2 separate regions of the Homo sapiens genome follow, and region 1 is linked to region 2. Evidence: fine-mapped expression QTL. A gene starts in region 2. The other region holds a variant in brackets. All regions are shown on one strand. Distances are from middle to middle.

Region 1 (5,387 bases), 38 kb after region 2:
GTTTTCAGATTTTATGTTTGTTCCATTAGTATGTTTGCCTATTCCTGCACTATGTTTACACTGCTTTTAAAAATAGAGCTTCATATGATGTTTGATATCTGGTAGGATAAATACTCTTTTTCCTTCTCTCCTGCTCCTGGTCTGGGCTGTGTTTCCCTCTGGTTTTGTTCTTGTCAATACACTCCCCTTTGATTTTCTATCTTCTAGGATTCCTTAGAATCTCTTGTCTGCTGATGAAATTTTTATTTTCTAATATGCTCATTAAATTTATTATTTTAAAATATCTGTCTTTTCTTGGGTTGGAGCCAGGAGTAGATGCATGTGTTTTGTCTGCCATCTCGATACACTTCCTCAGAGGGATGCTTATAAAATAATCTACATGTGGCCAGTTGGTTGTCACCTTACAAAGCAAACAACATACAGCTGTGTAAGGATTGTTAAGTAACCATTCTGTATTCTGGAAATCTTTTAATGATCAACAACAGTTTGATGTATAATATATTTTATAGGCCTCATTGTAAAGAAATGAATGTTGATACCCTAAAGTGCTGATTCAATCTCTCTCAAAGTGTTTTCCCTTCAAATTAGTGTTTGTCTGCTTATATTCTGTGCTTGTCTTACCTTGGGGATGATTTCTTAAAACAAATTATGAGGCACATTCTGGCAATAAGAAATTTCCTAAATGTGATGTTTAACATTGGTGCCTAGAAATCATAAGTTCAATTGACTGTATTTTGTTATTTTTTTTCTTTTGAATGGGGAAAGGGTAGAAGAATCTGTTTTCTTCACAGATGAAATTTTCCATTAAAGGAAGCTATTATATTTCCATATCAGTACACTTATTTTATACTCAACCTCTCTAGGGATGACAGCCTGTTCAGCAGGAAAGCCCTAAAGGTCATCCAATGACTAGATTGATACATTTCACGGAAAAATTGAGACTAACTTTCTTACTGTGAAATATAGAAACCTGAGTCATCATTACCATAAACTCATAGCAGATCTATAGTTACCTTTGAAATAAAAGGGGATTACAGGACATTCTTGTTTTGATGGTGGGCTCCAGTTTCTCATCCTCAAAAATTTGGTTCTCATATTAAAATACTATTAATACAAAAATTATGCCATATGAAGTGAGTATCCAAAGATTTCTAAATAAAACATGTACTGAAATTAGTAAAAATTTCTCATAGTGTTATATGGGATTAACGGCGATTTCACAAATGGGAATACCTTTTTAATTCTTTCTACTTATTTACCTATTTATTTGGAAGTACAGTATTACAAACTAGGGAGCGGCTAAGACTGGCTAAGCAATCATGCTGGAAATTATTGCATAGCTCAGCAAAATATCCTAAAAATAAAAATATGCCTTACTTTTATGTCCAGGAACTTTTTATTATTTCTGACTTAGAAAATGTTATTTCTAAATTTTTAATGCTAGTTATACTTCTTTCTTTTGGTCACCATAAGGCTTTCTAGCACTTTCCTCAAAGGAAGGGAAATTAAATAAATGGGTATAACTCAGTCCACTTTGGTGACAGCTTGTTTGTGAGCTCGAGTTTGGAGACAGAATAAATTGGACTATTTGCTAAAATGGGGTTTTAGGATTATTCAAGAGGAAACAATTTCATGTATGGCTTTTCACTCTGGTTAGTCTTTGATTGTAGATCCTACATTTATTACTGTGTAGTCAGTATGCTTACAACTGGGCATCCCAATGGCTAGGAGATAATGTGAGTCTCTGGACAAACACTCCTGCTGAGCCAGAAATGCTGTCAGAATTTCCTCAAAGAATGATCTCAGTGTTTGTCTTTATTCTGATTTCAATCACACGGTGATTTGTCAGGGCTTTATAAATGCAATTTAATCCTGTTCAATTTCCAAGGAGGGGTGAACATGCAACAAAATGAATTAACTAGGCCAATCATAATCAAACACTGCAGAAAGCCAGGCAGAACCCACCATATGCCAAGGGTGTATAGATCTCATCCTGCCTGGGAAAACTTGACACTCCGCCTGGTGCAGGGATTGGGAGGGTAACTGAGGGAGGTAAGGAGGTAGGATATCCCTTAGGGAAGGAGCATCACTCCTCTCAGGAGATCTGTTCCTATGACTTTCAACAAAGCACCACCGAATTGTCATTGTATTTTGTGAGTAGCTAAATTCTTCTGGGAATTAAGGAAAAAATTTGAAGTTGCCATGAAGGTAGCCTCTTCCCAATTACACCTTAGCTAAAGGTAGCACTCTGATTCTCTGAGGATAATTGGTCCATCTAATAAAATCACATTGAATCTGGAGCAATCCTGAGTGTTTTCTAAGCTCAAGCTAAGAAATGCTGCTTTCAAGGGGCAGCAGTACAGCATTAAGAACATGGTATGGCCCTGCGGGCTGGTTTTACTACTGATTACTTATGTGACCTTGGGTGAGTGACTTAACTTCAATGAGCTTTTGTTTTTTTTTTTTTTCATTTGTAAAATGCAGATAATACCCTCATGGTGTTGATGTTGAAATTAAGGGAGACAATGAAAGTAAAGTGCTTAGTACACTGCATGGCATGTGGTAAATGCTCCATAAACATTCATGTTATTGTTTTCAGTATAAGCAGTCAAAAATACCAAAATTTTTCTTCATGCAACAAATATTTATTGTGCGTTTACTATATGCCAAACTTGCCAAATACTGGAGAATATTTGAAAAATACCTTATTCAGTGACCAAA[G/A]TAAGAATCTGCATCTCTGTTGTTGGCTGTAGATGGCAATTTCTGCTTCCTGGCCTTACTTCTTTAAAGAAAAAAATTTCCCATGCATTAGTCACTTAGATCAACCCATTGCCACATTTTTTTAGTGTTGAAAGCTAATATATTTTAGTAATGCTTCAATGAACTGTGGTAGCAACAAATAAAGAAATTGACTTCTGTCCCAAAATATGGGGAGTAGAGTTGTAATCAGGATTACAAAAAAAAAGGGGCCAGTATTACAAGCTGCTAAAATGCTTTTGCGTGGATTATTGTTTTATTTGGACCCCCTCCACCCTTTAAATCTGATACATGCTAAGATTTTCATGGGCACAGCCACCTCCTAATATGTGGTTTTGCTTCTCTGCAAGCATGGAATCCCCTCTGCAGTTATGTTTGCCTGTGCATCTCCGGCAGCTGGAGGACGAATCACATCAGGCTGATGAGTGTGTCACGCTCTTCATCCCCCAAGTGAGTGCACTCCCAGGCCCACCTTTCTGGAAAATGTTCTTTGGTGCAGGGTGCATGGTGGGCCAGGGAATTGTCTGGGCTTCCCATTAATCTCAGAGGATGGGAGGGTAATCCCTTCACAAATATGGGAATGGGGGCTGCTCTGAGGCTGGCAAATAATAAACAATGAGGGTTTCTTTTTTTTCTTTTTAATCCTGGATTCCTCCAGCCCTCCTCTCTGTAGTCCTCAGCAATAACTTAGCCCTTGTCTTCCTCTCTGAAGGATTTAAATGGAATGACCTTAATTCTCGCTTTGTTTGCACTCTATCTCTTAAGGAGCTGTGATGAAGACCAAGACAAACAGTAGATTAACAGTGCTACCTTTTATAAGGCTGATTAGTTCCTAAAATATGCTGAAAGGAAACAAAACCAAAAAGAAAAAAGAGTGGAAAGGGGGGTGAGACAGAAACCTTTGTCGGTGAGTTTGAAACAGCTCCATTTCTTTCATTAGTTGCAGATATTGACCTTCCGATGAAATATTTTCTTTGTGTGGGAAGGCTTTGCCAGGGTAGCATTTATTAGGCAGGTGCCTGGTAAGTGTTTCTAAGCAAATATTACTTTACTGCCTAATTTTGGTTTAAGGGGAGAGTTGTACCAGGGATGAATTTGGAAAACATTTGATGATGGTTCATCTGCCACCCCTTAGAGCAGGGGCTATCGAGTGGTTGACAGTATCCAAATCAGAATTCCAAAGACGCTGTTCCATCCGGAATCATTAAGAGGAACACAGCCTCTTAGAATCTCATTCAGCTCCTCTGGATTTGAAGGAATTTACAGAGAAACTTCCAAGACACCTCAGCTATATCCAAACGAAAGCCTAAGCATTATGGTTTGGCAGAGCTGAAAATGTGTCTCTGGAAAGAAAAAAAAATTATATAAAGCTCCACAGAAAATATTTCTGGGCATCAGCTTGTTTCCTTTGAGGGATGGGAGGTTGTTCCTGAAATTGTTCAATTTGATTTAAAGTTAAATAAAAATGTGAAAGACCAGGGTACATTAATAAGATGATCCACCTGCTTATAATAATAGGATAATTCACATCCTCATTGTCAGAGTAGAAAGGATCCCAATAAGGTCAGTCTTTAAACTCAGTATGTTTCATTCTTTGGTGCTGTCTCACTTAGATTCTCAGCGCCACTTGTCTGCCCTTCTTTTCCACTATGCACCTTTATTGCAAATTTAGTTCCATTAGGTAGATGCTTGCATCGTTATGAAGCCTGATTCCATCATTTTCAAAGTGCCAAGCCATTTGAATACGATACGGTCCTTGGTCATATTTAATCCAAACATTTACACACATCCAGCCCCTTCTTATCTTTTTAAATAGGATGCAGGGCTTATTTTTAAATTACATCCTCATTCATGCTCCGTAAAAGCATCAAGTAAAACCATCCATGGGATTTACATTCTGGTCCATAGTTGTTGCTTCCAATTCCTGGCATGGCCATTAAATCCTAGCCTCAGCATAATTCTCGGCATGACACTCTTGTGTCGAGGCAAAAAAGGAAAAACAGAAACAGCCATTTTTTTTTCTCTCCCAGAAATTAAGCTGCATGGAGGAGCACTGTAGCTTTTGCTTCCTTCCCTATGTATACCTAATTTAAAGGGCATCTTAAAATAAGGCTCCCCAGAAAAGGGATGTCAGTGGGAAGTTGAGGTGCTTGAAATAAAGCAAGTGCTTACTAAAAACGGATATGTGCATGATTTCTTTTATCACATGTCAATTAGATGTACATCTATTCAGGGGAGGTTTCTGTTGATATAATGAGTTTTCCTGTGACTTGAGTGCCATAACTGTCACCACAGCATCCCAAAAGTCCTGAGTCATCTGTGGTTGCCCCTCAAACCCTTGGTACGGTCTATTCCATGAATTCCCCCTTTCCCCCAACAAGCTCACTCTCCTATCAGCTTCTAGTCTCAGCTATTAGATTCAGTCATATAACAAGTACACAGATGCCCCAAAGCTATAGAGCCTTAGCTTGCTTTCTTCAATTTCTATGCAGTTACTGGCATCATAAGAAATCTCTTATCAATTTGGAAAGGCAATTGGAACAAACTAGTGTTTGCTTAATTAAACCCACACCCACACCCACACACACACACACACCCTGGTCTCCACCTACCTTGTCTCATTTTGTACT
Region 2 (5,387 bases):
TCTTCAAATGTGGGGAGTTCGGGGCCATGATTTCTTCCAATTATTTTTGCCTCAAATTATTTTCTTCTACTAGGACTCAATTACCTGTAAGCTAGGCTGCTTGATATTATCTCCTTGAAACTCTGCTTATTTTTCTTCTCTCTACTCTCCAGATTCAGGCATGTCTATTGGTTTGTATCTAAGTTCATTGACTCTCTATGTTAAGTCTGATCTGCTGTTAGGCTCAATTTTTATTTCAGTTACTATACTTTTCAGTTCTAGAATGTTCATATAGTTGTATTTGTAGTTTCCATTTATCTGCTGTTTTCCATTTGATTACTCATTAAGATCATATTTTTGAGTCTTTTAATGTGATTTTTATTTGTATGTCTAGTGATTAAATAGTGAACACTGTGGACAACACACTGTAGATAGTCTAGATTCTGTAGTCTTCCTCTAAAAATGGTTGTTTCATATTTGAGGTGGCAGTTCATTTAATGGCTTATTACTTTAACTTGTGTAGACTTAGTGTTTTGCATTGCTAGTATAGATCTGTGGACAGTCCAAGGTGTTTTCAAGATCTTCTAACCTTTCAGTAGTCACTTTCCAAACTGTGTCTCCTGTATAAATCTTGTCGGGGTTTGGTTTCAGGCTTTGTTGGGGTGAGTCTAGAGTTGGTCTTTCTCAAGGGGCATATTCCTTAATCCTAATATGTGCACTTTGTGGTGTCTCAGAGCTGGATGTCAGGAGTTTTAACAAGATGTTAATAAATCTCTCCTCTCTGGCAGGGCCAGAACTCTGACATCTCTGCCACTGCTTTTCCCCAAGCACTGCTCAACCTCTAGAATCTTGGTTCCACTTTCAACTGCATAGCATCTGACATCTAGTAAAGCTCGGGTCGCCTCACACTGCACATGTACAATCCAACTCTCAGTCACTGATTTGCAGGAGATCCCTGCTGGATTCTGGGGTCCTCTCTCTCTACATAGCTCCCTCCATTCAGGCTCCATAGTTTCTACTTGCTTCAGTTACCCTGAACGCTGATGTCTGCCTCCCCAGCTCAACAGGACTGCCATGCTCTGCTCAGACTCCAGGTCTCTGTACCATGGTCAGGAAATTGTCTCCAGGCACAGAGCTGAGGCAATCATGTAGCTTACCTCATGCACTTCCCTTCTCTCAAGGAGCACAGCCTTACAGTGCTTGTTATCCACTGCCTGAAATCGGATGCTTCACATATTCTGTCCCGTTTTAGAGTAGTTTTGGGCTAGTACAGTATCAGTCATCCCATTATGGTTAGAGATGGAAGTTCAGGAGTCAGTATCTTGATTTCAACCCTACCTGAAATCACATTTCCACGTTGGGAAGAACATAAGAACCACAGCACTTTCTATGAAATGTCATAAAATAGGTCCCAGCCAGTTGCAAAAACTCAAAAGTTCATGTGGCTTAAAATCATATAGGCTATGCCTAGCAAAATGCCCGATATGCCCGACAGAAGCATGTAGTTTTATAAATTATTAAGTCATTTGCTGGATACAGAAAGAAAGGAGGAAGAACCCACTCCTTAGAGTTATGACTTATCTACCAATTAACTCTATGATCTTGGGCCTACAGCTATATTTAACTTGTCTTTGGGATCACTGGAGTAACTTCATTGAACACTAAGAAAACCTAGTTAGAAATTTGTATTTGTAATTTGCTTTGATTATGTCCTCTGAAAGATACTTTCCAAAATGAGACATGATTGTTGTGGTTTTCTTCCAGAATTAAACAGGTTTCCAAGTTGGCAACTGGGATGACAACTTGGGAGGGCTTCTCCCAATTTCAGAAAGAGCTTTATTCCCATAAGTGTATTAAATTCATGTAGAAAGAAAAGAACCAACAACAGAAGACAAATGTGGGTAGCAAATAGCAGTTTGGGAGTGTCAAGGAGGTGGGAGAAGGACTTTCAGTTAAGAAAACGATACAAATACATACATATGTACATAATGTCATGTGAGTGATTAAACTGTCCTTTCTCCAGAGAGCAATATTAAGGTTTTCAGAGGCCAAAACAGTATACTAATGCAATATAATTATACCTTTGGGTGAAACATCAAAGATGCAATGAGTGAGAGCTAAGGAGGCTACAACCCAGCTGAAATGCCATTATTTAATGAAAGACCAACAGATGCAACAAGAACACTTACCACCATGGTCTAGTGTTCCCTCTCAGTGCAGTCTTAAGCCTAATTCCTCTTCTGCTTGGCCTTTGACCTGGTCTCTCCAGTTGACTTTTCCACAACAGTCTTCACTCACAGGCAGAGTAGAAATGGGATGCAAGAAAAACAACAGGTCCCAGATCACTTTTTTCCTCTTTCTCTATTCCTCTTTCAGTTATGAATTCTGTTTTGCTTTGGAGAAGAAAAATGCGATCCCCCTGGATATTTTTTCTGGGCCATCACCAATTTATCCTGTTCCCCCTACCCACCCCTGCCAGTATTTTATACTTTACTCTTCAAAAACTTGAGATGTCTTGAGTACTGAGAAGTCTGAAGGAGTTTGTACTGGGGCCTGGCCTCCGATATTTCTGCTGGATAAGCTATTCCTTCATGCCTGACGGTGAATGTGCGTTATGGACTTGCCCAAGGAATTTCTGGAACTGGGCCTGCAAGTCTGTTTTAGATTAATGCAAATGGGATTTGGGGTAGCTGTGCCTACAAATATCCTGCAAAGATATTTTGTATCAAAATGACAATATTAAGATGAATCAACTCAATGAAGTCTTTGGGTACCGCAAAAATGTTGAATGTTGCATAATCACTTTCTGTTGATCTTTTTCTTATTACTATTATATGTGAATATACACGAGGCTTCCTGCCTTCATTGCCACAATTTAATGGGACAAACTGCAGGCACACAGTCCTTCCTCACTTTCTGTGCCCATTTCTCTGACATACATCATTGCTGAAGTCTGTTGTTTAAGCAGTGAAAAAAACATGTAATGTTTCATATAAGGATTATCCATAAAACCCCAAAGTCCTTAACTCTTCTGTCCTTCTGAGGCCATCCTTTTCTTTAACAGCCATCCCCTAAATTGTGGGAAGTCTAACGTGTTCTTCAATTTTCCAGCAGATTCTAGAGTTGAGACTTGGTTCTTCCCATTTTTCTCTTGCTCCTGACTTTTTCAATTTCTTCCCTCCATCTGCCCACTGCCTTTCCAGGCTGCCCCAGCCCATTCTAGTTTGCTTTGCTTCAAAATATGGACTCACCACCCTTTTCTTCATGATAATGCTCTTGTGATTAGCAGTGTGTTATTGTATTTTCTTGTTTTATATGAGCAATGTAGAGGAATGATAGCACAAAACATGGACTGACTTAAAATTGAATCCTGGTCACACTATTGCTAAAGTTTTCTGAAGTCTCCCCCTCGAGGAGTCCTTACTGGTGGCACTCTCAACTGGGTATTTCTGGGGCCTGCTCCCTGGACTCTAAGAAAGCTTTTTGTTTTCAATGTCTCTCTCTCATGGTCTGACCTTCCTCAGCCCTGCAGTGGTGGGTGGAACCCACTCCAAAATTCCTGTGACTTGATGGTGCAGAGAAACTTGGCTCTCTTTCAGGCTGACCCTCTCCTACCCAGACTCTCCTGGGGTCCACCCCCACACTCAGAAAAGCCCACTGAATGCTTTCCCAACAAAAGAGCAGTTTGCTCTTTAAGAGGAATTCTGCCACCCTCTTAGAGCAACCAGTTAAAATGACTGTCAGCTTACAATTTTTAGTTATAACCAGAGTTTCTCTAAGTTTGCAAAATGTTTTAAATAAAGCAATTTGACAGAAGATTTAATAAGGTGATAGACAAAAATGGGGGGTCCTGTTGTCAAGAGTGGTAATTCTAAATGAGGCAGGAAAAGTTATGGATAGAAGAAAAAGAGTTTGTGATTTACTGTTTCTTCCAGTGACCTCCGCAATGTGTGGAAGAGAATAGGTTAGACAGGCAGCAATAATTATCTCACTTGTAGCTTCTCAAAACCTGGAAAATAAGGCAAGGTCTGGTGGCTCATACCTGTAACCCAGTCCTTTAGGAGGCAAAGGCAGGAGGATCTCTTGAAGCCAGGAGTTCAAGACAAGGCTGGGTAACATCAAGAGACCCTCTCTCTACCAAAAATAAGAAATTGGTCAGGATAGTTGTGCGTGCCTGTAGTCCCAACTACCCCAGAGGCTGAGGTGGGAGGATCACCTGAGCCTGGGAGGTTGAGTCATGATTGCACTATTGCACTATTGCCTGGACAACAGAGCAAGACCCCATTTCAAAAAAAACAAACCTAGAAAAGAAAGCTATTCTAAATTGAAGTAACCAAGGAGCAGAGCCATAATCCACAGAGAGAGACACAGGTTCAACAGAGGCTGTGGAAAAGCAATTCCAAGCAACTTCTCATATTCCAGGAACGCAACTGAGGCCTGGGGAGCCAAAAGGCTGCTCTCAGAGGCAGGCACATTCCAGGTGTCACCTTAGGATTCCACTCGGGACCATGATGGCCCTGGGAGGGAGGGGAATGGGCTTTGCAGACTTAGACTTGACTGCATGACATCTACATCTTCAATGTTATTCTACACTGTTTAATCGGTGTAATAAATGGAACTTCCAATATTACAATATTCTAACATTCTTCGAATATTACAATATTCTAACATTCTTCGAATATTACAATATTCTAACATTCTTCGAATATTACAATATTCTAACATTCTAAGTTCCATTATTTTGCCAATTAAAAAAACTGTGTGTTAAGAGTGCTTTTGTATTTCAGGGGTTCCTGAGGACACTGAGAAAGGGAAATATATCATATGGCAATATTCCATAAAATAAATTACCTGGAGACAGTATAAAAATTTGCAAGGATACAGACACAAGGCATGTAATTATTATAAATATATAAAGAATGTATGACTACTTTTAGATATAATCACCTAATAAATTTCAAGATTGCCTTATTAACTATCTATTTGTGTTTGTATACATTGTATCATTTAAAAATAGATATGAAATAGTACTTAACAATAAAAGGTTTGTAATAAGGTTTTTGGAATCAGAATAAAGAAAAACTTTTGTCCTACTGAGGATAAGTTGTTCAATACAGTGAAGTCACATGCACATGTCTTGCTTTGGATTTACTTTCTCCCAGTTCTTACAATATCACCAAATAACAAAAATTTCTACTTACGACTTTACTTTCCTATACGTTGTCAGTTGAATTATTTTTCTGTATATTTCCACAATGTGATAAATATTTTTCAGGTTTAGGAAAAAGTCATTTAAAGCTGTTAAAATTTAAAAAGAAATCTATTCATAGCATATACTTAGTCTAATTGCCTTAAGACTCTTCTGGGACATGTAGCAATGTAAAATGGTGGATGGATAGCGGTGTACG

The links.
Region 1: its variant is fine-mapped to the expression of PTCSC3 in lung (TOPMed, PIP above 0.99).

What each region holds. Positions count from the first base shown.
Region 1 is chr14:36,211,852-36,217,238 of GRCh38, forward strand. No RefSeq gene overlaps it. Among named protein-coding and RNA genes, the nearest start is that of PTCSC3, 38 kb to the left of the region's middle. The variant G/A (reference allele first, on the strand shown) is at 2,722.
Region 2 is chr14:36,174,130-36,179,516 of GRCh38, forward strand. PTCSC3 (papillary thyroid carcinoma susceptibility candidate 3) reads right to left here and starts at 2,593. Exons shown (of 4, transcript NR_049735.3): 1 at 2,169-2,593.